Homo sapiens: one gene and its partner. The protein of the gene in region 1 binds, or shares a complex with, the protein of each later gene. Each region holds a gene or a part of one and is shown on either strand. Other genes may lie near its edges. The genes, in order: POMC and OPRM1. A codon is read from its position in the direction of its gene.

Region 1 (15,552 bases):
TTAGGCAGCATTTCGAGCAGCCTGATTTGATGTCCTGCACACAAATTACTCTGGTGATCACTATTACCCAGACTCCAGTAACTTTGGAGAGCTTCGTTTTTAAAGCAGATCTCAGTTCTTTGAAATCTGGCTCATCTTCTGGACACGTCACGTGTCAGATGTCTTGTTCTCTAGAGCTCTCAAATGTGGTCTGAAATGGCAGGATTTGAAGAGGATGCAGATGTGGAGGGGAAAGAGACCAGAAGGGAATTACCTCCTGGTGGAACAGCCACTGCAGATACTTTTGGAGAATCCAGCAAGTGCCTGTGGGCAGAAGCTGAGGTCAAGACACCAGGGGACAGTAAGGAGGGGGCATCCATGGTGCCCCTAGCCCCCTGTACCCACCCCTCTCTCCAGCACTACCCTCGCACTGCCAAATTTCCCTTAACCAGGTGGGCCCCCTGAAGCCACCTCGAGGCCGGAGATCAGCTCACCGCCAACCCTACAATCATTTTGGATTTCAGAAGATCTTCTCAGCCAGCTGCTAGAAAGAAATGTAATTAGATGAGAAAAGTAATTCACATTAAAGCGTGGATGACTAAGTGTCTTGTCACTCCTAATGAACGCTGGCATTTTAAAATAAGTTTGCCTAAAATAAATCTCTCATTTGGGGAGGCGTGGGCCAAATCTTTTTTATATAGGGGAGGCTTTGGAAGTGAAAGTCCTCTGAAGCGCTGATTTCTACTTCAGGAGGCCACTTCCTTCTCTCTACCCCACCCTCGCCCTATTCCCCAGGCGCTGGGCCTGCACGGTGCTAGCTTCTGAAGGGTTGCCGGGCAAGGCTGAGCATTTTCAGAGCAGCCATTAGATGGCACTGGCAGCCAGTGACTGGCCCAGGTGCGCTTCGGCTAAAGGGGCAACTGAACGAGCTTTGGTCAACCTTGGTGTCCTCTCCTGGCTCCAAGGGACAGGCTGTTCCCATTGTACCCTGCCAGTGATCTATTCAAGTACACAGCCAGAACTTGGTGGACCAGGCAATTAGATTAAAGCTCCAAGTTGACCATAGCACATTTAGCTCTGAAAAATGCCCAGATGTTACAGTCACAGAAAAATGGTAGTTACGTATGTCACCAAATGCAAATGTAAAGTAACATATTAGTAAAGGAAAAAACAAAATCTTACAGGTCTGATAGTTCCCTCAATTATATTTCAATTCTTGTCAAAGATAACTACTCTGGAGTGATTTCCATTTGCTAGAAGCAATGACTTCAGGCCTTCCTGGAAAGCCCCAGAGAGCATTTCCCCTCCTTATGCCCTATGTGCTGTGTTGTACAATGTGGTAACATATTCACTCCCACCCTCTCAGAGCTTATATTCTGTTGCTAAACTGGTTAGATGGCTGCTATTGCTAAAACTTCAGATTCTTCCCTGAAAGATGGTCTTGTGTTTGTATTGTATATTTTGCTTATGTGTATGTGTATTTGCTTATGTGTATTTTCAGTTCTCTACAATGAACAAATAGTACCTTTTGTGTCATTTTTAAAGCAACAAATTATTGGGGAAATATCAAATGTTGTGCTTTTTTAAGTAGGGAAAGTATTATAATCCAAAAATGGAAAGCTCTGGAAAAATAGAAACTTGAAATTTGCTCATCCTGAGATTAACTTTATAGTAGAACTACACTTATTAGAACTTCATAGGTGTGAGGGGCTCTCTATGAGCTCAACAAATCATTTTGCTTGTTACTGTAAAACTGCACGCTGGCCATGACCTTTTGTAAAGATTAGAGGAGCACAGGGGCCGAGTTTTGTCCTTACACCATGACATACATGCATCGAGTCCTATAACAAAAGCATCAAAGGAACAGTAAGTCATTAAAGTGGCCATAATCTGTGCAGAGTTTATAAACTGACACACACACAAAAAAAATCCACACACACTTTTATTTTCCTTGGCTCCTTCCAGCCATTCTGTAAGAACCCTCCCTGCCCCATTTAAACATGAAGAATTTGGGGAATCCAAATGCCAAGTGGACTGTCTCTCCTTCGCTGGAAACGCCCCTTACCTGAGCCTTGATCATTCCAAATGGCTGCCCGTGCCCTCAACCCAGGATCTGCGCCATAAACCGTCCACCCCGGTTCTGTTGAGGGCATCCGAAACTAGACAGTGCGTTTCAGGATCTAGGACAGCTCCCGCCCCGGCCACCTGTTTTTAACCCCAGCTAGGTCTTGGAGAGAAGAGACCCAACTATTCTGCATTGTAATTGACCCAGTTATCATGTAATTATCATAGCGCGGCCACCTCGGGTGCGCTAAGGTGGGCAAGGAAACAAGGATTCAGGGGTCTGAATCCGAAAAAATCCGGAAGGCAGGGCGTTCATTATGACTTTTATCCTTTTCTCTGCTGCCCCGTTTCCAACATTAATTTGCGATAGCGTGTATGGAATTTGACTTTCAAGATGTGACACCTATCCTGGAAACTGGGAGCAAGAGATACTAAAAGACCGGGCTGGCCGGGGGCGGTGGCTCGCGCCTGTAATGCCAGAACTTTGGGGGGCCAAGGCGGGCGGATCACCTGTTGTCGGGAGTTTGAGACCAGCCTGACCAACATGGAGAAACTCCGTCTCTACTAAAAATACAAAAATTAGCCGGGCGTGGTGGCGCATGCCTGTAATCCCAGCTACTCGGGAGGCTGAAGCAGGAGAATCGCTTGAACCCGGGAGGCGAAGGTTGCGGTGAGCAGAGATCACCCCTTTGCTCTCCAGCATGGGCAACAAGAGCGAAACTCCGTCTCAAAAAAAAAAAAAAAGACCGGGTTGTCCCAAGACCTCCTAGCAAGCTCTCGGAGCCTCCGGACCGCCGCGAGCCCCTGGGGGAGAGGAGGCCGCCGGCTCCCTGGAGACAGCGCCTGCAGCTTCGCGGCCGTCCGCCCAGGGGCCGGACGTGGGCCCTCCAGCTCAGCTACTGGCGGCTTCTCATGCCGCAGTCGGCGCAGAAAGTTTGTCGAGAACTCGGGACCGCGGAGAGCCAGAGGCGCCCAGGTCCGCCTTCGGAGCCGGAGCCGGCCGACTGCATCGCGAGGACGGGGACAGGGGATCCCGGGGAAAGAGCACGGGTCCCCCACGCTGCGCCCTTACCTGTCTCGGGAGGCTGCTCTCTGAGGGCGGGGACGCTCGGCGGCCTCTCTCGGTCGCGGCTCTTCTTCCCCTCCTTCGCCGCCGCTTGGTCCCGCGCTCCTCTGTCCTTATATACTTGCCGAGCTCTCCTGGTGGGCGCGGGACTTTGACCTTCCCGGCAGCACAAGGAGCAGCTCCCCGGGCCAGGGGAAGGGGGGCCGCGGGGCGTGGGAGGGGGGCTTCCAGACGGGGGACGAGCGCGGGGAGACGCGCTGGAAAGGGGCTGGAATTAGCACTGTCCTGCCGAAGGCGCACCTGGCCGCTCGCCCTCAGGAAGAACTTAATTATGGATGGCGTTGGGTCTCCGCTTAGAACGGGCGGGAGGCTTAGCACCCCCGTGTGGGGCAGGCCGGGCAGCCTCTGAGGTCGTTGAGGCGAGGGTGAAGTTACCTGCGTGCGTGCTGGGGCTGGCATCTGCCTGGTTCGCATTTGGCGGTAAATATCACCGTCTGCACACGGGGAGGCCTCCGATTTCCCCATTGTTTGGAAACTGTGATGTGGAAGTCGTGGGGAATCATATTCTCTCTGTTCCACTTTGGGGAGGGGAGGAGGGAGCAGAAGTCAGGAGCCGTCTTGTGGGTGTGAAGGTGAGTTGCACTGCTCCCCTGGGGCCTGCTCTCCAAGGGCCTGGTTTAGGGGAGGCTCCCTTCCGTGTCCCAAGCCTCAAGGAAAAAGTCCTGTTAACCTAAACCATTAAATGGGGAGAGGGTGATGCTGTGAAGAGCAGCTGAAGTGCTTTCCCTGTGGCCTCTGATCCCTCCCTTTGCCATGAGCTGGCAGGGTGGTCTGGGGACTCAGACAATTTTCAACATCCCCCTTGGCCCTGGAGTTCTGGCTTGGCTTTAGTTCCAAATATCAGACCAGAGAGAAGAGTACAGCACTCAAACCAAGCTAAGAGACTCTACCTTAACCTGGAGTAAATAAACAAAACCAAATTGTGCGATGTGGTGGGTGTGGGAGGGAGTATTGGGACTAAACTGGACTTCAAATCAAGACACTTGCTTAATCTGCCAAATGCCAGAACTTTCCTGATTCCCCATGAGATGCTCTTTTGGACTCCAGGACTCTCTTGTGGATTCAGCTTTTCTGGTGACATTGGCTTTACATTCAGCAATCCTTTCCCTTTGGACCACAAGAGAGATCCAAGCTCCGTCACAGTAGACAAGGTGCTTCATCACCCGGCTTTGGCCCCTTTCCAGGGCCATTTCCCAGTTCTCCACCTTGCATCCTGGCACTTCAGCATCCACAACATTCACACTGCTAGAACATGGCTTTCTTGGGTCTCCATTGTCCAAGCTGTTCCCCCAACTAGAACATCCTTCCTCTCTCCAGCCATCCAGGAGCTTGACTCACATCAAGATGTAGCCCATCCATCAGCCCCTGTTCTCTGAAGCCCTCTTTGGCCACTTTTCCTACCAGGGGCATGAGGCATGACCTCCTCTGCCTTCCACAGAAGTCCATCCCCATCTTGTCAGTGCAAGTGGCTTGCACTAATTCACTTCTGTCCCCATTTTTTTAATCTTCCATCCACCCCACGACCACCATCAGGTTTGTAAACTCTTTCAAGCAGATGGTGGTTTTGCCTTATTTTACTTTGTGTTATTTTTGTAACTTCAGGAGGCTGCTGGTGGCAGCAGATAAAACAAACCAGGAAAAATCCAAATGGACCCAACTTCTTTAACTGGGTTCCTTCTTTCTTTTCTTCTCTCTCTCTCTCATTCTGTTTGTTTGTTTTTGAATTAGGGTCTCACTCTGTTGCCCAGGCTGGAATGCAGCAGTGTGAACACTGCTCACTGCAGCCTCCACCTCCTGGGCTCAAGTGATCCTCATGCTTCAGCCTCCTGAGTACCTGGAACCACAGATGCATGCCACCATGCCCAGCTAATTTTGGGTTTTGGTTTTTTGTTTTGTTTTTGTTTTTGTTTTTGGTAGAGACAGGGTTTCACTATGTTGCCTAGGCTGGTCTCAAGCTCCTGGGCTCAAGTAATCCACATCAGTATCCTGAAGTGCTGGGATTACAGGTGTTAGCCACCACACCCAGCCCAGTTTCTTAATTTAATGCAGCAGAACCTGCTTTGGCCTCCATGAACTGAAAGGCCATTGAACTGCATTTAGAATCACTGGGTAGGCGGGGCACAGTGGCTCACGCCTGTAATCCCAGCACTCTGGGAGGCTGAGTTGGGCAGATCACGAGGTCAAGAGATGGAGACATTCCTGGCCAAGATGGCGAAACCCCGTCTCTACTAAAAATACAAAAATTAGCCGGGCGTGGTGGCGCACACCTGTAGTCCCAGCTACTCGGGTGGCTGAGGCAGGAGAATCGCTTGAACCTGGGAGGCGGAGGTTGCGGTGAGCCGAGATCGCGCCACTGCACTCCAGCCTGGCGACACAGCAAGACTCCATCTAAAAAAAAAAAAAAATCACTGGGCAGGTTGGGGGACCAGGATCTAAAAATGGGCAGGGACACAGTGTGGCTGGAACCATGGCCAAAATCACATCCAGTGGAGAAAAAAAAAACAGACCACAAGGGGCCACAAGGGGCATGTCAAGACCACAGGCGTCTGACATAGACGTCACTTCTGTCCCCAGGATGGGACGCTGCCATTCTCACTTCAGCTAATGCCACTAGAAAGGAGTCACCACTGCCCTTGCATCCTTGTACCACTAGCTCCTCTTTGAAAGCCTAGAACAGGTGCCTTTGATTGTCTGACATGACATAATTTTTCACCTTTATTCTAGTAATGTGGTGAATTATTGCATTGTTGATTTTTTGGTGTTAAACCTACCATGGCTTCTTAGATTAAACCCAATTTGATTATGATGTATTATCCTTATACAGAAAGCACTGGACTCAATTTGCTAATATTTTATTTAAGACATTTGCATTGATGTTCATGAGATGGGCCTGTAATTTTCCTTTCTTGTGGAATTCTTGTCTAATTTGAGTATCAAAAAATTATGCTGTTCTCATAAAACAAGTTGGAAATCCATCTTCCCTCCCCCTTTTTATAATTAAGTAGAATAATTTGCGTATAATGGTGTTATCTCGTCCTTAAATGTTTGGGATGATTCACCAGTGATGCCATCTAAATCTTTAAGATTGTTTGTTCATTGAAGTTTTTAATTACAGAATCAATCCTTTCAGCTGGAGCTGGAAAAAAGAAGGAAAAATGTTTTAAACCATTACAAATTCAATTACTTAAGTGGCACTATTTCAATTGTCTACTTCTTCATGTGTCAGTTTGAGTCAGATATGTATTTCTAGGAATTTGTCTATTTCATCTAAATTCTTTAATTTATTGGCTTAAAATTGTTTATTATATATTTTAAGCATCTGGGATCTGTGGTTTTGGCCCTTTTCATCTCTGATATTGGTTATTTGTGTTCTCTTTTTTCTTGATTCATTTTCTTTTTTCTTTTTGAGACAGACTTTCACTCTTATTGCCCAGGCTGGAGTGCAATGGCATGATCTCGGCTTACTGCAACCTCCGCCTCCCGGGTTCAAGCAATTCTCCTGCCTCAGCCTCCCAAGTAGCTGGGATTACAGGGATGTGCCACCACATCTGGCTTATTTTTTGTATTTTTAGTAGAGATGAGGTTTCTCCATATTGGCCAGGCTGGTCTCAAACTCCTGACCTCAGGTGATCTGCCGGCCTCAGCCTCCCAAAGTGCTGGGATTACAGGCGTGAGCCACTGTGCCTGGCCTCTTGATTAGTTTTCTTAGGGTGTTATCCATTTTATTAGTCTTTTTAATAATCCATTTTGGTTCTGTTAATTTTCTGTACTATATGTATACTTTTTTATATTTCTGAAATTTTTACTCTTATTATATCGTGCCTTCTACATCTTTGGGTTTAATTAGCTATTCTTTTCCTATACTCATGAGTTGGACATTAAATAAATACTTTTACTTAGATAATTGATATTGAACCATTTTTTTCCTTTTTTTTTTTTTTTTTTTTAATATTGCCTTGACTCATCTTCAACTCTTGGGCTCCAGTGATCCTCCCACTTCAGTCTCTCTAGTAGCTGGGACTATAGATGCATGCCACTGTGCCCAGCTCCTTTATTCTTTTTTTACATATGTATTTATGGCTATATTTTCTTTCTAAGTACAGCTTTATATGCATCCCACAACTTTTGATATGTCATATTTCAATTACCATTTGTTCAAAATATCTTTTTATTTTCATTGAGATGTCTTCTTTGACCTATAGGTTATTCAAATATATTCTGCTTAACCTCTAACCCTTCCAATTCATATTACCAACTTAGAAAAAAAAGAAAAACTTCTAAACCTTGGGGATTTTCCAGTCATGTTTTTAAACTAATTTTTTGCTTAATTCCCTTGTAGTCAGAGAATATGCTCTGTTTGATTTCAGACCTTCGAAATTTTTTGAGGCTTGCTTAACAGATAAACATAGGGCTCATTTTGATTAGGGCTTCCTGTGCACTCCAAAAGAAGTGTCTCACTGCACTGTATTCTGTGACTGTATATTCTCAAATATTCTATATCCTTTCTCTACCTATATCCTTGCTATTTGTCGTCTTATTCTATTAGTTACTGAGAAAAGTATGCTTTTTAAATCTCCTCACTATTTTTGTGCATTTCTCCATTTGATCCTGGCATAAAAACAGCACAACTCAGCCGGGCACAGTGGCTCACGCCTGTAATCCCAGCACTTTGGGAGGCCGAGGCAGGCGGATCACCTGAGGTCAGGAGTTCCAGACCACTGTGGCCAACATGGTGAAATCCCGTCTCTACTAAAAGTACAAAGATTAGCCAGGCATGGTGGCGCATGTCTGTAGTCCTAGCTACTCAGGAAGCTGAGGCAGGAGAATTGCTTGAATCCGGAAGTCAGAGGTTACAGTGAGCCAAGATCATGCCACTGCACTCCAGCCTGGGCAACAAGAGCGAGACTCTGTTTCAAAACAAAACAAAACAAAACAAAACTCTATGAACTGAATGGTGATTGTGGGTGGAGGGTAATGTTGGATCAAGGATAAAGATGGCAGAAAGGGCCAGGCGTGGTGGCTCATGCCTGTAATCCCAGCACTTTGGGAGGCCAAGGCGGGCAGATCGCAAGGTCAGGAGTTCGAGACCAGCCTGATCAACATGGTGAAACCCCATCTCTACTAAAAATACAAAAATTAGCCAGACATGGTGGCTTGCACCTGTAATCCCAGCAATTTGGGAGGCTGAGGCAGGAGAATCGCTTAAGCCTGGGAGGCGGAGGTTGCAGTGAGGCCATTGCACTCCAGCTTGGGCAACAGAGCAAGCCTCTGTCAAAAAAAAAAAAAAAAGGAAAGAAAGAAAGAAATAGAGAAAAGAGAAAAAAGGAAATTCTGAAATCTGGCCTGGCACGTGTGACCACGTGACCAGTTCCTTCAGAAGGCAGTTCCACTGCCCGGAATGAATCTCCTTAGCTCTTGGTTCCATCCTCTGGGCTCTTGGTTCCATCCTCTGGGCTCTTGGTCTATTCTCTGTGTTAGCTTTCCTTTTCCATAATAGCCAAGATTTGCACCTGAATAATTTTCTTGCTTGCTTCCTGCCTATGGTATTTCAGGGGCTCAAAAGCTTCTTTTTGTTTGTATACTCCAGCTCGACCACTATCTGTCATATGGATTAAAGGAGGCAATTCATGTAAAGATCTTAGAGCAGGGCCTGGTCCCTAGTTAGTCCTGTACAACTGCTAGCCCTTAACTTTAATATTATGGGAGTGTTGGTGAGAAGGGAGGAGGGAAGAGGAAGGAAGGAAGGAAGGAAGGAAGGAAGGAAGGAAGGAAGGAAGGGAGAGAGGGAGAGAGGGATAGAGGGAGGAAGGAAGTAGAAGGAGGGAGGGAAGGAAAGAAGGCAAGGTTGGAAGGAGGGAGAAAGAGAGGGAGGAAGAAGCAAGGAAGGGAGGGAAGGAAGACATAAAAGAAGGGAGGAGGGAAGGAAAGAAGGAAGGAAGACAAGAAGGAAGGAGGGAGGGAAGGAAGAAAGGAGGGAAGGAATAAATGAAAGAAGGAAGGAGGGAAGAAAGGAGGGAAGGAGGTAAGACAGGAGCAGACACAGGGTCTTTTGGACAGGGTAGCTGATGGGTTTGTTGGGAGACCCTGCTTGTGAGGACTCCTGGGGCCGGGGCGATGCACCTGCACCTGGCTGCGGGCGTGCCAGGTGGCTGTAGACGTAGGGCTGGGGCTGCTCTCATCATCTCAGCTTTTCACCTTTGAGGTTTTAATTGGAAAAGAGATGTCACCAGGGTGTGAGTGCGTTACAAGGGCAGGTGCAGGGGAGGCTGATGACTGAGAGGACAGAAACAAGGACAGGGTGGCAGAGCCCAACATGGGGCAGGGGATAAGGAGGTACAAGGAGGGTGGCCTCGTTGTCAGCCTCCAGGCATTGGGACTGGCAATGGGGGACATTACCCTGGGAGAAGAGAAGACTTAGGGATGAAGCTGCCTCATGTCTGTGGGGGACTTTGCTGGAATAAGCACCAATTCATGCCTTAAGGGTCTGAACGAGGAGCCCCAGCTCCACCTTGGCACGCCCTTCTTCATTCTCTCTCCATAGTCTCCATGGACAAGCTGGGGGCAGCTGCCATCCCTGTCTCATGGAATAACAATTGTCCCTTCTCGGAACTCCTTAGGCTCAGCCAGGGCCTCTTCATTCCTGCTGTTGTTTGGTCTAGAGGGGCCCTTGGGCTGCTCAGCTGGTGCCGGTTGCCTCTAAGGGCACAGCTCCCATAATCAGTGCCTGGTAGAGAGTTGGTGCTTGAAAAATATTTGTACAGCAAGGGTAGGAGGGGATGAATGAGGAAGGGAGACCCTCTCCCTCTTAACCCTCAGTTTGCAGAAACTCATGATTCTCCAAAACCCTCTTTGTCAGAGGCGTTTGAACCAGAGCAACTCCATCTTGAATAGGGACTGGGTAAAATGAGGCTGAGACCTACTGGGCTGCATTCCCAGATGGTTAGGCATTCTAAGTCATTGGATGAGATAGGAGGTCGGCACAAGATACAGGTTATAAAGACCTTGCTGATAAAACAGTTTGCAGTAAAGAAGCCGGCCAAAACCCACCAAAACAAAGATGGCCACTGAGAGAGTGACCTCTGGTCCTCACTGCTACACTCCCACCAGCGCCATGACAGTTTACAGATGCCATGGCAATGTCAGGAAGTCACCCTATATGGTCTAAAAGGGGAAACATAAATAATCCACCCCTTGTTTAGCATACCATCAAGAAATAACCATAAAAATAGTTAACCAGGCCAGGCGTGGTGGCTCAAGCCTGTAATCCCAGCACTTTGGGAGGTCGTGGCAGGTGGATCACGAGGTCAGGAGTTCAAGACCAGCCTGTCCAAGATGGTGAAACTCTGTCTCTACTAAAAATACAAAAATTAGCCGGGCGTGGTGGCAGACGCCTGTAATCCCAGCTACTTGGGAGGCTGAGGTAGAGAATTGCTTGAGCCTGGGAGACGGAGGTTGCAGTGAGCTGAGATCACGCCACTGCACTCCAGCCTGGGCAACAGAGTAAGACTCTGTCTCAGAAAAAAAAAAAAAAAGTTAACCAGCAGCCCTCCAGGTCGCTCTGCCTATGGAGTAGCCATTCTTTCATTCCTTTACTTTCCTAATAAATAAACTTGCTTTCACTTTAATCTATGGACTTGCCCAGAATTCTTTTTTGCGTGAAATCCAAGGACCCTCTTTTGGGGTCCGGATTGGGATTCCTTTCCAGTAACATCTCCGTACTCCCTCTGTAGGACACATGAACCTGAAACAGGGAAGTGCCTCCTCTTCATTGTGTCTGAATGAGAAATAGCCCAGTATCTTCCCCTTTATGTGGGCATTCAAGAATCGTGAGCACTTTCAAGAAATCCTAACTACCGCTAAAATTGCACTGGGGCTCAGAAAATTATACCCCAAAATATGGAACTAAAGAAGCAGCTTCAGTTCCTTTGAAGAACCTTCAAAATCTCGCCCTGACCTTCCCCTCACTCCCTGTCTCTCTGATTTTTTCCAAAACACCAGAAGGTACTGTCTTTGGCATTTCCATATCTGACTAAGGAAACTTCTTTCTAAAAGAAATACAATTGCCTGAAGCCTCCCTTCATAGGAATCTCATCAAATAACCAGGAAAGAAAGATTAACCACCTGAGAAGAGACGGATCATCACCGCCTCCAGACAGACTTTTCTTGCATTTTTCTGAGGGCAACTCCAAGAGATAGCCTAGGGGGGTTACCTGCATAATAAGACAGGCTGCGTTCACAATGACTTTCTGCTTCTCACCTTCACACCACCTACCCAAAGAACAGAGAAGAACTTTGTCCCAGGCCATTGTTCCTCGGGCGCATTCACTTTCCCAGAAAATCATTTACTCCTATGCCCCTCATTTTCCCTTCCCCTATCAAGAAATATCTGCAGGCATCTGGACCTCATTGAGTTACTGGGTAATCATTCTCCCACCATTCTGCTATGCTATACACATGAAATTAATTTGTATGTCTTGTTCCCCTATTAATCTGTCTATTAGCAGTTCATTTTCAACAAAACTTCAGAGGGCAGAGTGAAGGAAGGAAATTTTCTCTTGGCACCCACAATTGTCAATAGAAACCCTAATTAAGCATCCCTCTGAGGGGAGCCTGATGTGGTTTGCAGGGCAGACAGGGAGCTGCCTCCAGAAAAGGGCCTGAAGCCTGAAGCACTGCAGAGGAGAGGGTTACTGGTGCCCCAGATGGCCCTACAATTCAGGCGGATCCCACTGCCCCGCTTCACCCCTGCAACACGCCCTCCCCAGTCTCAGCCTTTTCATTGAGCTTCTCTCATGCAGCACTGCAGCTGGGCTACTTCACCAGCCTTCGGTTTGACCTCAAGGGCAAAGAGGAATCAATTTGTGCAGAGAACTGGAATGAAAGAGATTTCAATTGACCTTTGAATGGGGTTTTAATTTGCTTTATTCCAGCCAAAGGGACCTCGTGAAGAGACCCTTGAGACTGCTTTTATCCACTAATGCGCGCATTAGTGCAGCAGCCTGGGCCAAGGTCTGCATGGTCTGGGTGCCGCAGAGCACAGTGGGGAGGGCCAGAGTCCATGCCCCTCCCTAGAGCAGGTTGTCAGCACCCTCAGGGTCCAAAGCAGAGTCAAGAGTGGAGGAAGGGCCTAGGTAATATGGTGGAACCCCATTTCTACAAATATATATATATATATACACGTATATACACACACATACAAAAATTAGCCGGGCATGGTGGCACACGCCTGTAGTCCCAGCTCCTTAGGAGGCTGAGGTGGGAGGATCACTTGAACCTGGGAGGTGGAGGCTGCAGTGAGCCATGATCATGCCACTGCACTTCAGCCTGGGCAACAGAGCCAAACCCTGCCTCAGAAAAAAAAAAAAATAGAGTGGAGGAAGAAGCAGTGGGAGGGGGTGAGGTGACCTGGGTTCTAGCCCCAGCTCTGTGGCCAGCAGACACAGGGACCTGGGTCAGTCACTCCCCCCACCCCCACCCCACCTCCAGGCCTCAGCCCCCTCATTTGAACAATGGGGGCGGGGAGGATGTGGTCCGTTTCAGGCCTGTCATTCTATGATTCTAGGCTCAGATCTAGAGTCAAGCTCTGTGATTAAAAAACAAACAAACAATAGTCTTACAGAACGTGGCCCCTAATGGGCACAGCTGAGTCCTCTGGGCTGAGGAGGTAAGCTCTGTCCTTCTGTCTCTTGGGCCTTTCTCGTGTCCTGTTTCTCTCTGAGAATCTGCTCCAGTCTGCACACATGGGCAGGCCAGTTCTCTGCTCTGTTCACTCTGAATCCCAGAGGAAACTAATGGGGCCACTAATTACCAGCACTCCTGCTGCAGGCAGCCACCCATGGGGTCCAAGTGGCCTGTGGAAAGCCAGCCCTGATCAAAGAGCCCTCTGCAGCCGCTCCTCACACAGAGCCAGTTCCATGGGACACCCCAGTAGAGAGCCTGTAAGTTTGTGTGCACAGTCCTGCATCAGCAATGGCAGGTTCTCTCTTACCCTGAGCTTATTACACCTGGGTATATTGCCATGTGGAGCCACATGTATTCTTTTAGAACCACTCCCTTATCCCAAGCCCTTTTTTCACAATGAAGGCTTGCGCCTCTGCAATCCAAGTAGACTTCCTGGAAGTAGTGTCTTTGCTGAAGATGTTGTGGACATAACAGACACACCAGGCTCTGCTAGATGACGTCCCTGCTGCCGCTCTTTCCAGACAGAGCTCAGGTGCCAGCGGCCACCATTCTGACTCAGCGGTGGTCATAATGGTCCTTTTGTGGGGGACAGGCCTTTGTTAGGGGCTCGAGCATGACTGCTACTTTTCCAGAAGAATGCGGAGTTCTCCAGCCAGCAGTTGAGGTAGGGAGAGTGACGTGGTGGCCAGGAAGGACGCCACTAATGCACATCCATTAGTGAGTGCATCACAGGGCGGCATTCAGAAGCTTCCGAGCGGTCCTCCTTCCTCCAGACCCAACAATGGCTGCGTGGAGGGGGCTTGAAGTGGCCTTTTTACAGGCACTCAGCTCAGTCTCCCTCTCCAGCCCCCGCCCCCGTTAGGTACCCATCTTCCATTTCCATGCCTGCTGCTCAAAGGAATGGAGCAGCCAGGACAGCGAATCCAGGCAGCCCACCTGCGGCCCGGAGAGCCCCCACTGTGCCCTCAGTCCCATTGCCCCAGGAGAGGGACACCAGGCTGGGCAGAGCTGGTGCACAGTGACCTGCTATGCAGCAGCTCAAAGAGCCCATGACTCTGTGTGTGTCTGTGCATGTGCATGCACGTGTATGTGTGTGTGCATGTGTGTGTGTGTGTGATGGGAAGGGTGCAACGACTCCTGAAATGGGTTTGAAAGGTAGTTTGGTTTGTTTTTAACACGCTGTCCAAAGCCTTTATGTCCAGTTGAAAGTGATTCCTTTCCCAGCATCCCCCTAGGCAGCTGTTCTTGGTGCCATTGAGGGGCTGGGGCTGGAGCCTTTGGCAGACCCCTTAGGGGAAATGCTTCCAGACCAGGTCTAATCCGCCTGAGAAGGCCAGTCTCTGACTTCAACATCTCATTTCAAAAAACATGTATTCGCTGGGCATGGTGGCTCACACCTATAATCCCAAAACTTTGGGATGCCAAGGTGGGTGGATCGCTTGAGGTCAGGAGTTTGAGACCAGCCTGTCCAACATGGCAAAACCTCATCTCTACTAAAAATACAAAAAATTAGCAGAGTGTGGTGGTGTGTGCCTGTAGTCCCAGCTGCTCAGGAGGCTGAGGCAGGAGAATCTCTTGAACCCGGGAGGCGGAAGTTGCAGTGAGCCAAGATTGTGCCTCTGCACTCCAGCCTGGGTGACACAGTGAGTGAGACTCTGTCTCAAAAAACAAAAACATGTATAAATTATGTTCTTTTAATTTATCCTTTATATTATCGTTCAACCTTTAGGTTGAAGTTATTTTTCTATGTATTATGAACATGAGAAGGTTATATTATCAATGAATTTCATTTCAAGATAATAAATAAGGTCTCACTACTTATTTATTTACTCTTGAAAGGGTATTTTGCTGCTGATGGGAATGTAAAATAATGCCACTTTGTCAAAGAGTTTGGCAGTTCCTCAAAATGTTAAACATAGAGTTACCATATGACCCAGGAATTCCCTTCCTAGGTATATACTCAAACATTTTTCCACACATTTTGATAAAATTTGTATGCTCACAGATGCATTATTCATAAGAGCCAAAAAGTGGTAGCAACCCAAATGTCTACCTACTGATGAATGGATAAATAAAAAGTGATATATCCATAAAATGGAATATTATTTGAGAACAACAAAAAAAAAAATGAAATACTGGCGGGGTGTGGTGGCTCACATCTGTAATCCCAGCACCTTGGGAGGCTGAGGTGGGTGGATCACCTGAGGTCGGGAGTTTGAGACCAGCCGGACCAACATGGAGAAACCCCATCTCTACTAAAAATACAAAATTAGCCGGGCGTGTTGGTGCATGCCTGTAATCCCAGCTACTTGGGAGGCTGAGGCAGGAGACTCGCTTGAACCCAGGAGGCAGAGGTTGCAGTGAGCCAAGATCATGCCATCGCACTCCAGCCTGGGCAACAAGAATAAAACTCCGTCTCAAAAAAAAAAACAAAAAAACAAACAAACAAAAAAAAAGAAAAAGAAATGAAATACTGATATATACTACAACATGGATGCATATTTAAAACATGATGCTAATTGGAAAAAGTCAGACACTAAAGTTCACATATTGTATGATTCCACTTATATGAAATACCCAGAATAGGCAAATCCATAGAGCCAGGAAGTAGATTAGTGGTTGCTAGGGGTTGGGAGTGTCAATGGGAAATGAAGAGTGGCTGCAAATGGATACAGGTTTCCTTTTTGTTTGTTTCAATAGTT
Region 2 (15,099 bases), on another chromosome or scaffold:
ATATATATTTTTTAACCTTTATAAATATTGGATAATGTGACAAAAGTAGAAAGAACCTAGGTAGGGATTGCTAGATTTTGTAGATATCTAGTATTCTTGGGATTTCTGGTGTCTGTATAGAAAACAGAATAGTAGATGGTAGCTGATTTTACACAAAAAATGTGCTCTATACATTAGCTCTTTTTCCTTCTTTCCCAAGAAATACTTCACTTTATACAGACAAATTGCTCACATTATTTTTCTATATATTCATTCTTAAACTGAGAGGACCAATATTCAAATTGTGATGAAATTTTCAGCCTATATTTATTTGGTATCTGATAATGATATGGAGCCAATTTATCAGGCTATTTATTTCTTTGCATGTGTTTCTAATATGTTCAGATGTTATAGAAAGACAAGATGGTTAATTTCCTTTGATTCATACACAGTAAAGCAACAAGCACTACCTTAAATTCATACTTATCTCACACCAGTTAGGGTTAATATTTATGGGTGTATTCCTTTAGCACACACCACTGGCAATGGGGATGACTGGGCTTGCATGAGCTCTGTGACTTTTTGATATATATTATGATATATGTCATAATATGATAATATATATTATGATATATGTCATAATATGATAATATATATTACGATATGTCATAATATGATAATATATATTATGATATGTCATAATATGATAATATATATTATGATACGTCATAATATGATAATATATATTATATGTCATAATATGATAATATATAATATATATATCATAATATGATAATATATAATATGATATATATCATGATATATATCATATGATATATATCATATGATAATATATAATATGTTATGATATATATCATAATATGATAATATATAATATGTTATGATATATATCGTAATATGATAATATATATGTTATGATATATATCATAATATGATAATACATGTTATGATATATATCATAATATAATATATAATATGTTATGATATATATCATATGATAATATATAATATATTATGATATATCCTGATATGATATATATTTGATATATATTATGAAAACTCATGTTTTTATGAAACTCTTCATGTTTATTATGAAAACTCTCCATGTTTTTAAAAACTACAATTACAATTTAACATTTGAAATGAATCTTGTTTCTAGCCTCCCCTACCCACATCATATATATGTGTGTATATATGTATATACATGTGTGTATATATATGTGTGTATATATGTGTATGATCTTTATTTAAGAGATTTTATTGCAGTAGAGTAGAAGTCATAGACGATATGGTTTCCTTCCTCCCTCCCTTCCTCTCTCCCTCTCTCTCTTTCCTCTTTCTCTCATTCTTTCCTTCCTCTTTCTTTTTCTTTCCTTCTTTCTTTCTTTCTTTTTCTTTCTTTCTTTCTCTCTTTCTTTCTTCCTCCCTCCCTCTTTCTTTCTCTTTCTCTCTTTCTTTCTTTACTTTCTTTCTTTCTCTTTCTTTCTCTTTCTTTCTCTCTCTCTCTCTCTCTCGCTCTCTTCCTCCCTCCCTTCCTTCCTTCCTTCCTTCCTTTCTTCCTTCCTTCCTTCCTTCCTTTCGACAGACTCTCATTCAGTTGCCCAGCCTAGAGTGCGGTGGCACAATCACTGCTCATTGCAGCCTCAACTTCCCAGGTTCAATCAATTCTCCCACCTTAGCCTCCTGAGTAGCTAGACCTACAGGTGCATGCCACCGCGCCTGGCTTTTTTTGTTTGTTTGTTTTTTGCAGAGATCGACTTTCGTCAGGTTGCCCAGGCTGGTCTTGAACTCCTGGGCTCAAGCAATTCACTGGCCTCGGCCTCCCAAAATGCTGAGATTACAGATGAGAGCCACTGCACCTGGTCTGGCTCTAATTTTTTTTCTTCATCATGAAAAGTTCCTATTCACGTGAAACTCAGAAACTCTACTCTATAAAGAAACAAATTCTGAGTGTGAAGGGAGAGGACTGATGAAATTGTGGCTTTGGATTCTTGATTTCCAGGGAAATAATAATTAGAAAAGGAAAATTATCAATAAGACAAATTTTGTTCTACACCCCACAGAAATTTCTATTTCTCATAATGTACTCTCCAAATTAATTTTGCCATTTTTGTCAAATTTTAGCAATTTACAAATATTTATTTGCAACCTGCCAAAAGATATAGTGATCAGAATGACATCCAAAAGTTAACAGCTGGTTTGTGATAGGTCATATACATTCAAATATCCTTTCCTTTAGTGTGAAGGAGAAAATGCAAAAGCAAAAATAAATACTGTGAAACTGCATTTCAAAATCATAGAGGTAGAAGTAAAAATAAACGTGGTGTTGTTGAAAGTTAAAAGAGAAAAATATGCACCTTTTCATATTTAGCATCCAAAACTACATGAGGTAGAAAATAAAGATTGACATGTTCCAAAACACTAAATCTCAGTGAGAGTATTTTTACAAAAAATGGCTGTAAAATAGCAATTCACCACTTAAGTTTAACCAAATAAGATGACATCTCATTTTGTTAGTTTTGAAAGGAAAAATATGTTGCTGTTTTTCAGTTAGTTACATTAGTTAGAACAGTCAGGAAAAGAAGATACTGCACCACTTTAGTTAATCCAATCTTTAAAACTAAATTTCCCTAAATTTCTCAGGTCTGAGACCATGCTGAGAAGAGTGAAAAATAGACTGGAATATATCAGGGCACATTGATTAAAAGCCTGGGTTATAAGATGGAATTTAACTGGAGTCAATAGTTAGCCACTAATTAAAATTTTTTTTCTAATTTTTAAAATTTTATAAATTTAGTAGAGACAAGGTCTTGCTATGTTGGCCAGGTTGGTCTCGAACACCTGGCCTCAAACAATCCTCCTGCCTTGGCCTCCCAAAGTACTAGGATAACAGGCGTGAGCCACTGCACCCAACCCTCAGCCACTACATTTTAACTATGACCTTGGGCAAGTTACTTCCTTAAACATTAGTTTCCTCAACTATAGAGTAGAGGTTACAATCCATATCTAATATGATTAAATAAGATATCCCATCCCAGACACAAAATGGTCAATATATGTTATTATGAATAGTCTAAAAGCCAAATTTTTCTAGGGATAAACACATTTTTAACTAAACAACATTTTCTCTCACATATCACAATAATTTATAGAAACACATACTAATTTCTTCTGCTATGCATGAAATATTAATTTTAAACCTACATTTACTCTAATTCCATACATGCAAAAAGAGACATGCCTATATCACACGCACACACACACACACACACACACGGAACCATTTTCTTTTTAAACTGTAGAACTGAAAGAATAGCCATTTTGATTTCATTCACAAAATAAGCATTAATGTTGTCCACTGCTGTAATTTTGTGAGCTATTCTCATTTGAGTTTTTTTTCCCATTGAATTGAAACAATTACTTTCCCAAATTAACTCTCCACAGATGTCTTGTAAAAAAAACTGAGATCAACTTTTGAGAGTGATGTATTTTATTTTAAAAGTAGGCTTCTGCTTTTAGTTTAGCTGGGGATAATATAGTTCACAGTTAAACCAAATACAGAGCATCTCCTAACTTCTTGACCCGCTATTTTGATTAAAATGTCAAGAAAGTGCTTTAATAATAGTAATTAGAGGGTTTAGGACTGGACTTGCCATATTAATGGAAAGGAATTAGCAGGACATGCCACGACGTTCACTTTATCACTATTATATTGCTTTTTCCTGTAAGACCCACGGGTAGATATGTCAGAATATTAAGGCTTTTTCCAAGGATAATTACATTATTTCACAAAACACATAACTCATTTGGTGAAAACATTCATGTCAATCAGCTTGACTGAAATGGCTAGACAGGTTAGACAAAACAGTAAATGTGCTACTTTGGAGATGAAGGTACAGTTTAAATAAGAGATTTCAGTTTATTGTTTTATTTAAAAGGCAGATTCTTGGACCCTCACATAACAAACTATAATTTATTAGAGCAGTTCTTAAGAACTTACATTTTCTGGAGCTCATAGTAAATGTTGAGAATCTGGCTGAGACCATGTGATAATAATTGAGTGCAAAGTAGCATTGTGTAGGAAAGCAGAGAAAAGCTGTGGAGTAATATTCGAAGCCCTGGGTGCTTGTCTGGATTCTACCTCTTCCTGGCTGTTTGATCTTATATAATGATTTAACTTCCCTGAGCATTTTCTTACATTTACCCATCAGAGTTGTTATAGGAAGCAGATGTGATAATGCCCATAAAAGCACTTTTGAATCTGTACATTGCCATATAAATGTAAGGCAGCATTATTATTATAGTGGTTGTTAGTACTAGCCTGGTGCAAAAATAATTGCGGTTTTTGCCATTGAAAGTAATGGCAAAACCCGCAATTACTTTTGCACCAAACTCTACCGTTTCAGTGATAATTCAACTGATGTAACAGTGTTGCTTTTTTCCCCATATAATGCTAAACGTTTTCAATAATCACCTACGTGTCAAGATATAAAATGCGTTAGAGGCCAGACACAGGGGCTCACGTCTGGAATCTCAGCACTTTGGGAGGCTGAGGTGGGCGGATCACTTGGGGTCAAGAGTTTGAGGCCAGCCTGACCAACAAGGTGAAACCCCATCTCCACTAAAAATAATACAAAAATTAGCTGGGTGTGGTGGCGCATGCCTGTAATCCCAGCTACTGGGGAGGCTGAGGCAGGAGAATCGTTTGAACCAGGAGGAAGAGGTTGCAGTGAGCTGAGATCGCACCACTGCACTCCAGCCTGGGCGACAGAGTAATTCCATTTCAAACTAAAAATCAAAAAACAAACAAACAACAACAATAACAACAAAAAGAAAATGCATTAGATAATATGATGCGGGTGGAAACCAAGTGGGCAAGGCAGGTTAGCAGTGGCCAACAGTTCAGGTTTGAGTTGAACCTGAAGTGATCGAAATAAACAAGGGAAGGGTTTGAAAGCAAAGTGGAGTTCAATAGGACAACAGCAGTGTAGGGCGTGTGTGGAGAAATTAAATTGCACTGAGAACAGATGGAAAATGAATGCCTATGCCTTAGTCTACCTAATAAAGATCTAAAAGTCATAAAGACAGCAAGCTGAACATAAATCAGGCACAGAGGCTACAGCTGGAGCAGTAGGCTGAGCCCAGGCATGCACAAAAAAAACACGAGACCATCTTTTTTGTTTTTTCATACTCAGCTAGGGAAAGACCTCTTTAGGGCACTGAATCAATCTCTTGGTCTCCTTATCAAAAGTACGCGTTAGAAATAAAATTAGAAAACAACCATGAATGTAACTGATTTTTTGAAAAGTATAAATAACATTGGATCAGAGTAGCAAAGGCTGAGGAGGAGAAAAGGAAGAAGGCCTATTTTGAATATTTTCCCATTACTGACGGTAAGAGGGTTAGGGTACATAGTCATTTAGGTTGTTCGTCAGTTGCATGATGAAGGGGTCATGCCTGCCACATCTCCTGAAATATCCTCAGCCCTCTCATCATTTATTCAACAGACATGAATCTGTCCAATGCTTTGGATGTTTTGGAAGTACTTTCTTTCTTTTCTTTCTTTCTTTTGAGATGGAGTTTCGTTCTTGTTGCCCAGGCTGGAGTGCAATGGCACGACCTGGGCTCACTGCAACCTCTGCCTCCCAGGTTCAAGCGATTCTCCTGTCTCAGCCTCCCAAATAGCTGGAATTACAGGTATGTGCCACCACACCTGGCTAATTTTGTATTTTTAGTAGAGACGGGGTTTCACCATGTTGACCAGGCTGGTCTCGAACTCCTGACCCCAGGTGATCCACTAGCCTTGGCCTCCCAAAGTGCTGGGATTACAGGCATGAGCTACTGTGCCTGGCCAGAAGTACTTTCTTTTTAATGTGCTAGACTCTGGCTTGGGAGAGCAAGACAGACACGGCTCCTGCCCTCAGGAAGTAATGGCTTCCCTGTCTCATGCAGCATGTCCTTACTACGGATTGTTAGCAGAAGTGGTCATAATTATTCGCTCCCTATATACCTATCCTTTTGCAATGTGACTGCAGATCCTATCAGCAAGAGATGGAGTCTAATTTCTCACCCTTTGAATCTAGGTTGGCAGGATGACTTTATTTGACCTATAAAACCACAGAGTTGACCGTATGCCAATTCCTACTCTATGCCAAAAGACGCTTTCCTCTTTTCTCTCTCTCTTTCTTTCTCTTGGAATCTGTGACCACCATGAGAACAAGGCTGGGGTAACATGCTAGACGGTAAGAGTCCATGTGGAGCTAGTCATTCTTGCTGAGGCCATGTAGATCAGCTAGCTGACCACCCGCCCATCGGGCAGCTGCCCTCCGAGCAAGCCCAGCCAATACTGGAAGAACGGTCCAGCCAAGCCCAGCTCCAATGGCTGTTCTACAGAATTGTAAACTAAATAAATGGTTGCTTCTAGCCACTACATTTTGGAATGATTTGTAATGTAACAAAAGCTGACTGAGCAGCTCTTAACTGTGTAAGTATGACTCTAAGCTTATTTTGGGCACAGAATTTTCTCATTGGCTTATCAAATTACCTTGATAACTGCCAAATCGCCACTCCACTTTGCGCTGTATGGAAATTGCCTCAGTGGACAGTTGTCAGAATACAGACACCCTGGGAAGGTTTGATATTGGATCTCTGATCTGCAGAATATGAAGTTGACTAATGTGCTTGAAATGTGACATATAGAGTATAATATATTCCTCAAAGAAAGTACAAATACATAAGGCAGAACATAAACATCCACAACCAATATAAACTTCAAACAAGTAGTTGAAAAGTTAAATGCAAATCCTATTAGCTTTGTTTTCCAACATGATGGGTCATGATGTGAAACAACGACCAAACACCTGTTTATCACATTCTGGATTTGTACAACTAACTTAACATGTCCTATAGACACAGCCATCAAGTCTCCAATTTCTCCTTCAAGTCATTTTATTATGTTGATATATTATTGAAACTATCACTAGCAGCTTATGTATTGTTCCAGTTGTCTGGTTGTAACTGCTTTAATTCTAATGATGACACATCAGTGGAGATTAGCCAAAGGGAGCTTTGATTTATCTTAATTTTTAAATATGTCAGAGCATCTTTCCCTCTTTTCCTGGCAGCCTCTCTTCTGTGTCCAGTTCTCTCAGTTGGGCATTTTGGGACAGCAACCAATTCGAGGGCTAATGTGTTTCTGCTGTTATCTTACACTGATACTGCTTCATAGAGGCAGCGATGAAGATAAGGCCTAATTGGATGTATTTTTAAAGCAAACCTTTTAGTTACTTGGAACAGAACTCCTCCAATTAGCTTCTTTTCTCTTCTATCTGGCTGTACAATAGCCATACTGATGTGAAAATGCCGAATTTGGAAGGGAGTCAAGGGCAGTGTCGGGCAACTGAAGAATAATCATGCTTAACTCAGGAGAAATGCTCCACCAGACGGGCTGGGAGCAGTATTTCCACGAAGGCAGGACGAGTGAAGGATAGCTGGGAGGTCATATCTGACAAGAGGTCCTTGCAGTGGTCCAGGGTACACAACCAAGCAGCCTTGCTCTAGAGCCCAGCAAGACAGGGAAGGTATAGGTAGGCACTAAAGGAGAAAGAGTCAGTACTTTATAATGGCCATTATTTTGCTCCAATGGAAATATTTTACTTCAAAGCAAAATATTTTATCCTTAGCTGAGGACTAGGCATTTTAAGTTGCAATCTTTAACATGTTATCCCCAGGTTGGTGAAAATCTATTTAAATCCCTGCCCTTTTAAAGTTACTTACAAGATTCTAGCAGCCACTGAATAGGAGGGCTGCTTAGCATTAGGTTGGTGCAAAAGTAATCGCTGTTTTTGCAATTACTTTTTAAAAGTAGCTCCTAGTAAAAGGAGTAGGTTTAGCAGTCTTGATGTGGAAAAAAACGTAGAGAAAAGAAGCAGAGTCAAAACCATTTCTTTCTGGCATTCATTTCTGAAATGGAATTAGAACTGAGACATAATAAGTTAATTTCCCTTTGTCTGGAAGTGGGTCTGCCATCATTACCTCATGCTCTCTAGGGGGTGTGAGTTCCTGTGTTCCCTTGAGCATCACTGAATACCAGGGGTATGAGGATTAATGTCGCCCATGACGGATGTATCTGGGCCATATTACATTAGTCCTCTGGTCAATTAGAAAGGTTGAGCCTGGGCTGGGCTGGATGGCAGAGTGGGGTAAAGAGGGGACAGTGAGAGACAGGGTGTGGTCAAGAGACAGCAGGAGGAAGCCACTGCACCCTGTGGTGGCAAAGGCCTCCCCTAGCTCCTCAATCATTTGACTTGCTATTCATTTCTCCGGAGCCATCTGTCCTCACAGTCCTGACGCCTGACTCTAGGAACTTTAGCCAAGATTCTGACTCCAGCCTTTACTTCATAGGAAGTTTGAATTTGAATTCACTGTTAAAAAAATTATACAGGCTGTGATTTTTGGATGCTGGCATCATTATTTAAAATTTACTTACTTAGATTAATATTAAAAATTAAGCCATGTATTTGATTGATTTTATAGATCAGAGGTCAAATTTAGCCAACCAGTGGCTTAATCAAGTAATACTAACTTGGAGACAGCCTTTTCTCTTTCCTCCTTGTTGATTTCCCATATGATTATAATAGTGTGTATAAGTCTTGAATTTTCTGTGTAGGTCTGGGCACAGAAATACACCTTCCAAAAGCTAGTCGCTATTCACCCTATTATCTCCAACAAGCATGAGGTCTGTTAAAAATTGTTTAATCTAATAAAATTTATTAGATTAATATTCACATATTAATAATATATTATTCAGTCTAATATGTTTGATATTTGTGCTAGAGTTCAGGTAGCAAACCAATAGCTTAAGAAAAGTTAGGGATGGTCATTTTTTAATCTTTTCTCCTTTTCCATGATGCTAATTTTCTGTGAATATCTTGCATCCATGACCACAGTGGGCAAGGCACTCACCCTCTCTCTTTAATCACAGAACCAGAGCAAGACTGGCTTTTGAGAAATAAGAGGGGTATTGCAGCAACATCTATGAATTATATAATAATTCTGGGGAAAATGAAAAGGATTCTAGATCAGAATTATTTCTATAATGTGCTAAAGTCATAAATTTTGCATAGAAGTAAAGGCCATAAAAATAGTTATTTTGAATAGTTTCATGGATTTCTCATTGGTGTATCTTTATACCTAAATGAATATGTACAGTCAAATATAAAGAACACAGTTTATATAACAAACCTCTTCTCTAACACTAGAACCACAATTTGCTTCCCCTCTTCCCTCCATTCTCATCCTCTATAATGGATTAAACTCCTAGTTTAGCACAAAGCCTTATAATTTTTATGTCATCCCCAGTAGATATACCTAATTCTAGAGACTGCGTACCTGATGATTAGTTCTATCCACTGTATTGGCCGTGGAGGGGTGGTCTCTAGTGTTCTGACGAATTCGAGTGGAGTTTTGTTGCTCAATGTTGGAAGAGGTTGGGATACAGAACTCTCTGAAGCATCGTTTGAAGTTTTCATCCAGAAATGCATAAAGGACTGGGTTGAGGCAGCTGTTTGTGTAACCTAGAGCAATGCAGAAGTGCCAAGAAACAGTCTGGAACGTAGTTTCTGGGATTGTAACCAAGGCTTTAATGATGACGTAAATGTGAATGGGAGTCCAGCAGACGATGAACACAGCCACCACCACCAGCACCATCCTGGTGATCCTTCGAAGATTCCTGTCCTTTTCTTTGGAGCCAGAGAGCATGCGGACACTCTTGAGGCGCAAGATCATCAGTCCATAGCACACGGTAATGATGAGCACTGGCATAATGAAGGCGAAGATGAAAACACAGATCTTCAGCAGGTTTTCCCAGTACCAGGTTGGATGAGAGAATGTTAGTGTACAATCTATGGAACCTAGAAGAAAGGAATTTAAAGGAAAAATTAGCAGCAACATTTAATTATGTCATAAGGTGTTAATACTGCCATTTTGCTCATTCATTTTTAGCCTTGACCAGAGCTAACTTAAGGCTATAAAGAAATTGTGGAAGAAACTCAGTTGTTTGTTACTTTTCAAAGAAAGTTTTACTTCTAATGTTTTTTGTTTTTTTCTAAATTTCCCATTTTGCAGTCCACTTCGATCACATTAAGCTTTCGTTCAGGGAACAAAAATGAACCTCTCAACATGAGCTAGATCCTCCATGAGGTCTATATTGATATAAAAAATGTAATAATTGTCCAAAGTCTCTAGGCGGCTCCAGGTAATGGATGTTTTCACTTCATTTTTTGATGGATTGTTCAATATTCTGATATTAGGTGTAGAAAGATACATTTGCCATGTAGTCAGCCACTTGATAATTTTAAACAAGCCTCAGTGTAATACTCTTTGGGTTTAAGCTCCAATTACTCTTGGGAGAGCTATGTACTAATTTACACACCATTTTTATGAAGTAAATACAGAGAAATCAGAAATAAATAGATTACATTCTCTTTAAAGGATTTAATAGGCCTAAAATTATGAGGAAAATTCCTATTTTTAAGTATTCAAAGGCTTTTTTTGCTAGGAAGAATAATTAAAATTACAATGTGACTAAGACAATGGGGCACTCCATAAATACTGCTTTGCTTATGACATCACCAACATATCAGGCTGTGAACCCTCCTTCCCTCAGGCTGGTAACATCACTCACCTTGCCTGTATTTTGTTGTAGCCATGAACATTACAGGAAGACCAATGGCTGAAGAGAGGATCCAGTTGCAGACATTGATAATTTTGGCATTTCGGGGAGTACGGAAATCTAAGGCCTTGACAGGGTGGCAGACTGCAATGTATCGATCAACACTCATGGTGCAGAGGGTGAATATGCTGGTGAACATGTTATAGTAATCTATGGAGATCACTATCTTGCAAAGGATGGTTCCAAATGGCCATGTTCCCATTAGGTAATTCACACTCTGGAAGGGCAGGGTACTGGTGGCTAAGGCATCTGCCAGAGCAAGGTTGAAAATGTAGATGTTGGTGGCAGTCTTCATCTTGGTGTATCTAGGAGATAAAGGAAGAAGAGTGAGAATCAGTAAAAGACACTAGTGTAAAATATAGGTAAGCTTCCAATAATAAATTTGCATGAATTAGTAGAAAGCTTTTTTGAGATTAGATATAGAATTGTTTTCCAGTATCAGCTTGGCTATTTACAATGATGTCAATGATGTACCTATTGGCTAAATAGCTGCAATAATAGCAACGATGCTGCTTTGTTGAGTTTCTTCCTTTTTTTTTTTTTTTGGATAGGATCTTGCCCTGTTACCCAGGCTGGAGTGTAATGGTATGAACAGAGCTCACTACAGCTTTAACCTCCTGGACTCAAGAGATCCTCTTGCCTCACCTCCTGAATAACTGGGATCCCAGGTGCATGCCACCATACCCTGTTAATTTTAAAAAACTTTTGTAGGGACAGGGTCTTGACATGTTGCTTAGGGTGGTCTTGAACTCTTGGGCTCAAGCAGTCCTCCCTCCTCGGCCTCCCAAAGTGTTTGTGTTACAGGCATGAGACACCACACGCAGTGAGGGTTTTAATTTTTTTTTTTGTAATGTGTCAGTCATTGTGATAGGTCTAATAGAAAGAGGGAGATTCCAGTCAAATAGTAGGGGCAGCGACTGGATAGTAATTCTAAATATAAAAGAGAAAATTTTAGCTATATAAATATAGTTAAAATTATCAAGAAGTATAATTGTGCAAGTGTCTATAGGTATGTACACAAACACATGCACATACAAACACACAGGCGATTATGGGGCACAGAGATGAGGCATCTCACAGAGCATAAGGCAAAGGGAATAGTAGGAGTAAGATGTGGAAGGCATCCTGGAAGTGCAAGTTTAATCTCAAAGCACAAGCAGGATGATTGAGTTAGACACTTGGTAGGAGCAGGTCATTCTAGACAGAGAGGTAACAGAGAGAACCCCAACAAAGATGTAGAGTTGGAATGGCCTGATGTGTGTGTCAAGCACATTCTACCAGGGAATGGCAAGGGATCTGACTGGGGAAGAAGAGAGGCCAGTACATGAAGAACTTGTATGCCATGGTAAGATTAGACTCTATCCAATCCATGATGAGGAACCCAAGTGTGTTTGCTTTGTTTTTATTTTTTAATGCTTTATTGAGGTGGAATTGACCTATAATAAATAACGCATAATTAAAGTATACAATTTGATAAGCTTTGATACGTGTGTACACCTGTGAAACCACCACCATAATTAAGATCAGAGATTGGCAAACTATGGTGTGTAGACCCAATTGGACCGTTGCCTGTTTTATAAATAAATACACCTATTTAAAAACCCATAAGTGTTTTGATGCTACAATGGCAAAGTTCAATAATTGCAACAGAGATCAGATGACATGCAAAGCCTAAGTTATTTACTATCTTGCACTTTACAGAAAAAAATGTCAACCTCTGATGAAGATAATGACATCAATTGCTCCCAAAAGTGTCTTTGTGTAGCTCTTTAATCTTTCCTGTTTGCCCCTCCCTGTCCTCATATCCAACCCTCACTATTCCTCAGGCAATTGCTGATCTTGGTTTGCTTTCTGTTCTTATAGATTAGTTTGCATTTCCTAGAAGATGCAAATAGAATCATTCAGTATGTACTCTTTTTTTGTGCTGCTTCTTTCACTCAGTGTCATTATTTTGAGATTCATCTATGTGGTTGCATATAACAAGAATTAATTCCTTGTTATTGACAAGTAGTATTACTTATGCATTCATCTGTTTTTTTTTTTAATCCATTCACCTATTAATGGGAACTGAGTTGCATACAACTTTTGGATGTTACAAATGAACTGTTACGAACATTCATGTGCAAGTCTTTATATAAACATATGCTTTTCTTCCTCCTGGGTAAGTATCTAGGAGTGTTATATGTTTTCAAGGCCTGCAGAAATTAGAAATATGATAGTAGAATATAAGCAGGTACACTTGCAATAATACATTATATCTGATGGCAGAAGTATACCTTGTAAACATTGGACATCATTTTTTTTTTAACATTCCACATATATTTACCTTAATTTAGTAATAGTACCTCAGTTTCACTCTGGGAACCACTCATTTCCCGTTCTCAGTCCAGGTGCTTTGGGATAGGCTGTATTACCAGTCCAGGGCGTGAAGACGTTTAGTGACCGGGGCCATGGTGAATGGCAAGGATGCTCTCATGTTCCAACCAGAGCCAGTGAGAGTTTATTTTGAGACTTATGGACAAAGAGTGTATTAGTTTTCCTGCAGGACCCACACCTGAGAAGACGCATGGTATGTAGTTGCTGGAGGAGCTTGTCTGAAAATGGACCTAATCCGGAGGATGTGGATTTGAGAGCGTGAGAGAGAACCCCACACCTGAAGCCAGGCCCTCCTTGGGCTTCTGATTTACACGGTGCCATCAATTCCTTTTAAATGTTAGCTTGTGTTTACTGTTTTTCCGTCACACGAGGTTGAGTCTAACTCATTCAGCCCAAGACAGCTGTTGGTTGGAGGCCCTTTGTTTAGGACTGAATTCAGTGTCCAGGAAAGTGTTTTGGTTTCAATAACATCAGGAAAGTGATTTCATAAATCTCCTCAGGGTCAATAGGACAGCTTTGTTACTGAAGCTTTAAAATTCTGATACCTGATCTGGTCTGCAATACTTGCAGAAGCTGCATTACTGCCAGAAAAGCTCCACATTTTCAGACTTGGGGGCTTTTTTTTGGACTTACTTTGGGAGTTTCACTTTCTTAATGGATTTTAAAGAAAAAGATAGAGCCATTTAACTTGAGGAGAGAAAATAATTTGCTTTTAGTTTGGACTTTAAATATGGCAAATATAAAAAGGATAATGTAGACAAATACTCCAAAGTACAAAAACCAACAAAAAAGCAAAATTAAAACTGTGGTTTTAAGATTTAGAATAATTGACCTTGGTGCTCAAGAAGTTGAAACATTTTTTATTTTTTTAATAAGAAGAAGTTTCTCCCCAAAAGAGAAAATAACTTTTGCTAGATTCACCGTTGGTTATAGACCTGCATGATCTAAAGACATGCTTCATTGCATTTGCCACTTTCCTACCCAGCAGACCTTACATTTCGTGGCTTATCTTTAATGGTGTTTTATGTTAAGTAATTGGTTTCTTTACAGTCAGTTTTCTGACTCATCATACTTCCAACCTTTCCTTCAGGCTTATTTTAGCACTAAGTATTTCCAATGTATGTTTATTTTAATTAAAAAAAATCATTTCCTTCTCCAGAGTGAGGTGTTTGTGGAAAAAAAAATTATGTCAGGGTTCAACATGGTGAAAGGAAACGTGGTTATGCATAGTTAATTAGCATGCTAGCCATTCCACAATGTGTATACATTTCAAAACATCATGTTGTATATGGTAAATATACATAATTTTATCATCAATTTACCAAAAAAAAGTGAATATTTATCTATAAAAATTCTTTCAACGGGCATTTTATAGGAATGATGCTGTTTAATTTTTCTCAATTTATTTAAAAAGTCTTCCTCTAAAGATAGCCAGCATTCTTACCCCAGTTACTCATGCTTTGGATCACAGCAACATATAAAAGGGGGCTCAACGATCTTCTAAATATGTGAAAGAAAATTATACAAAGCTAAAGGATTAAGAATTCCAATTGCCTCCAGCATATACCCAAAGGCTTTAATCTGAAGAGATGGTCTAATCAGAAAAGGAGTAATGTGGGCTGGGCCTGGTGGCTCAAGCCTATAATCCCAGCACTTTGGGAGGCTGAGGTGAATGGATCACTTGAGGGCAGGGGAAGGAGACCAGCCTGGTCAACCCTGTCTCTACTAAAATTAGAAAAATTAGCTGGGGGTGGTGGCAGGCACCTGCAATCCCAGCTACTTGGGAGGCTGAGGCAGGAGAATCGTACCACTGCATTCCAGCCTGAGCAACAGAGAGAGACACTGTCTCAAAAAAAAAAAAAAAAAGGGCAAGCTTTCATTCTGTTCTGATGTGGTGGCATGAATGTTGTCCCAGCAAAGTTCAATGAATGCTCAGAGTCACATCATGGGCCTTGCACAGGAGCATAGGACTCAGAGTTAGCAAACTAGCA

The links.
Region 2: the proteins of POMC (region 1) and OPRM1 are in contact, whole or in part, in a cryo-EM structure (PDB 8F7Q), measured with the Homo sapiens proteins. Residues at the interface, in NP_000930.1 of Homo sapiens: Tyr237, Gly238, Gly239, Phe240, Met241, Thr242, Ser243, Glu244, Lys245, Thr248, Pro249, Leu250, Val251, Leu253; in NP_000905.3 of Homo sapiens: Ser66, Met67, Ala70, Ile71, Met74, Gln126, Asn129, Tyr130, Leu131, Met132, Gly133, Trp135, Val145, Ile146, Asp149, Tyr150, Met153, Arg213, Ile217, Asp218, Cys219, Thr220, Glu231, Lys235, Val238, Ile298, Val302, Lys305, Trp320 (codon at 9,597), Ile324 (codon at 9,585).

Annotation. Positions count from the first base shown.
Region 1 is NC_000002.12:25,165,383-25,180,934, forward strand, and holds the start of POMC (pro-opiomelanocortin preproprotein), read right to left. Parts: upstream 3,199-15,552; 5' UTR 3,116-3,198; intron 304-3,115; exon of another isoform or gene 254-303; intron 1-253.
Region 2 is NC_000006.12:154,085,764-154,100,862, reverse strand, and holds part of OPRM1 (mu-type opioid receptor), read right to left. Parts: intron 14,357-15,099; exon of another isoform or gene 13,059-14,356; intron 11,102-13,058; exon of another isoform or gene 11,038-11,101; coding exon 10,685-11,037; intron 9,912-10,684; coding exon 9,391-9,911; coding exon of another isoform or gene 9,376-9,390; exon of another isoform or gene 9,055-9,375; coding exon of another isoform or gene 8,974-9,054; exon of another isoform or gene 8,906-8,973; intron 7,594-8,905; coding exon of another isoform or gene 7,417-7,593; exon of another isoform or gene 7,343-7,416; intron 6,654-7,342; exon of another isoform or gene 6,545-6,653; intron 1-6,544. UniProt on the Homo sapiens protein: Receptor for endogenous opioids such as beta-endorphin and endomorphin. Receptor for natural and synthetic opioids including morphine, heroin, DAMGO, fentanyl, etorphine, buprenorphin and methadone.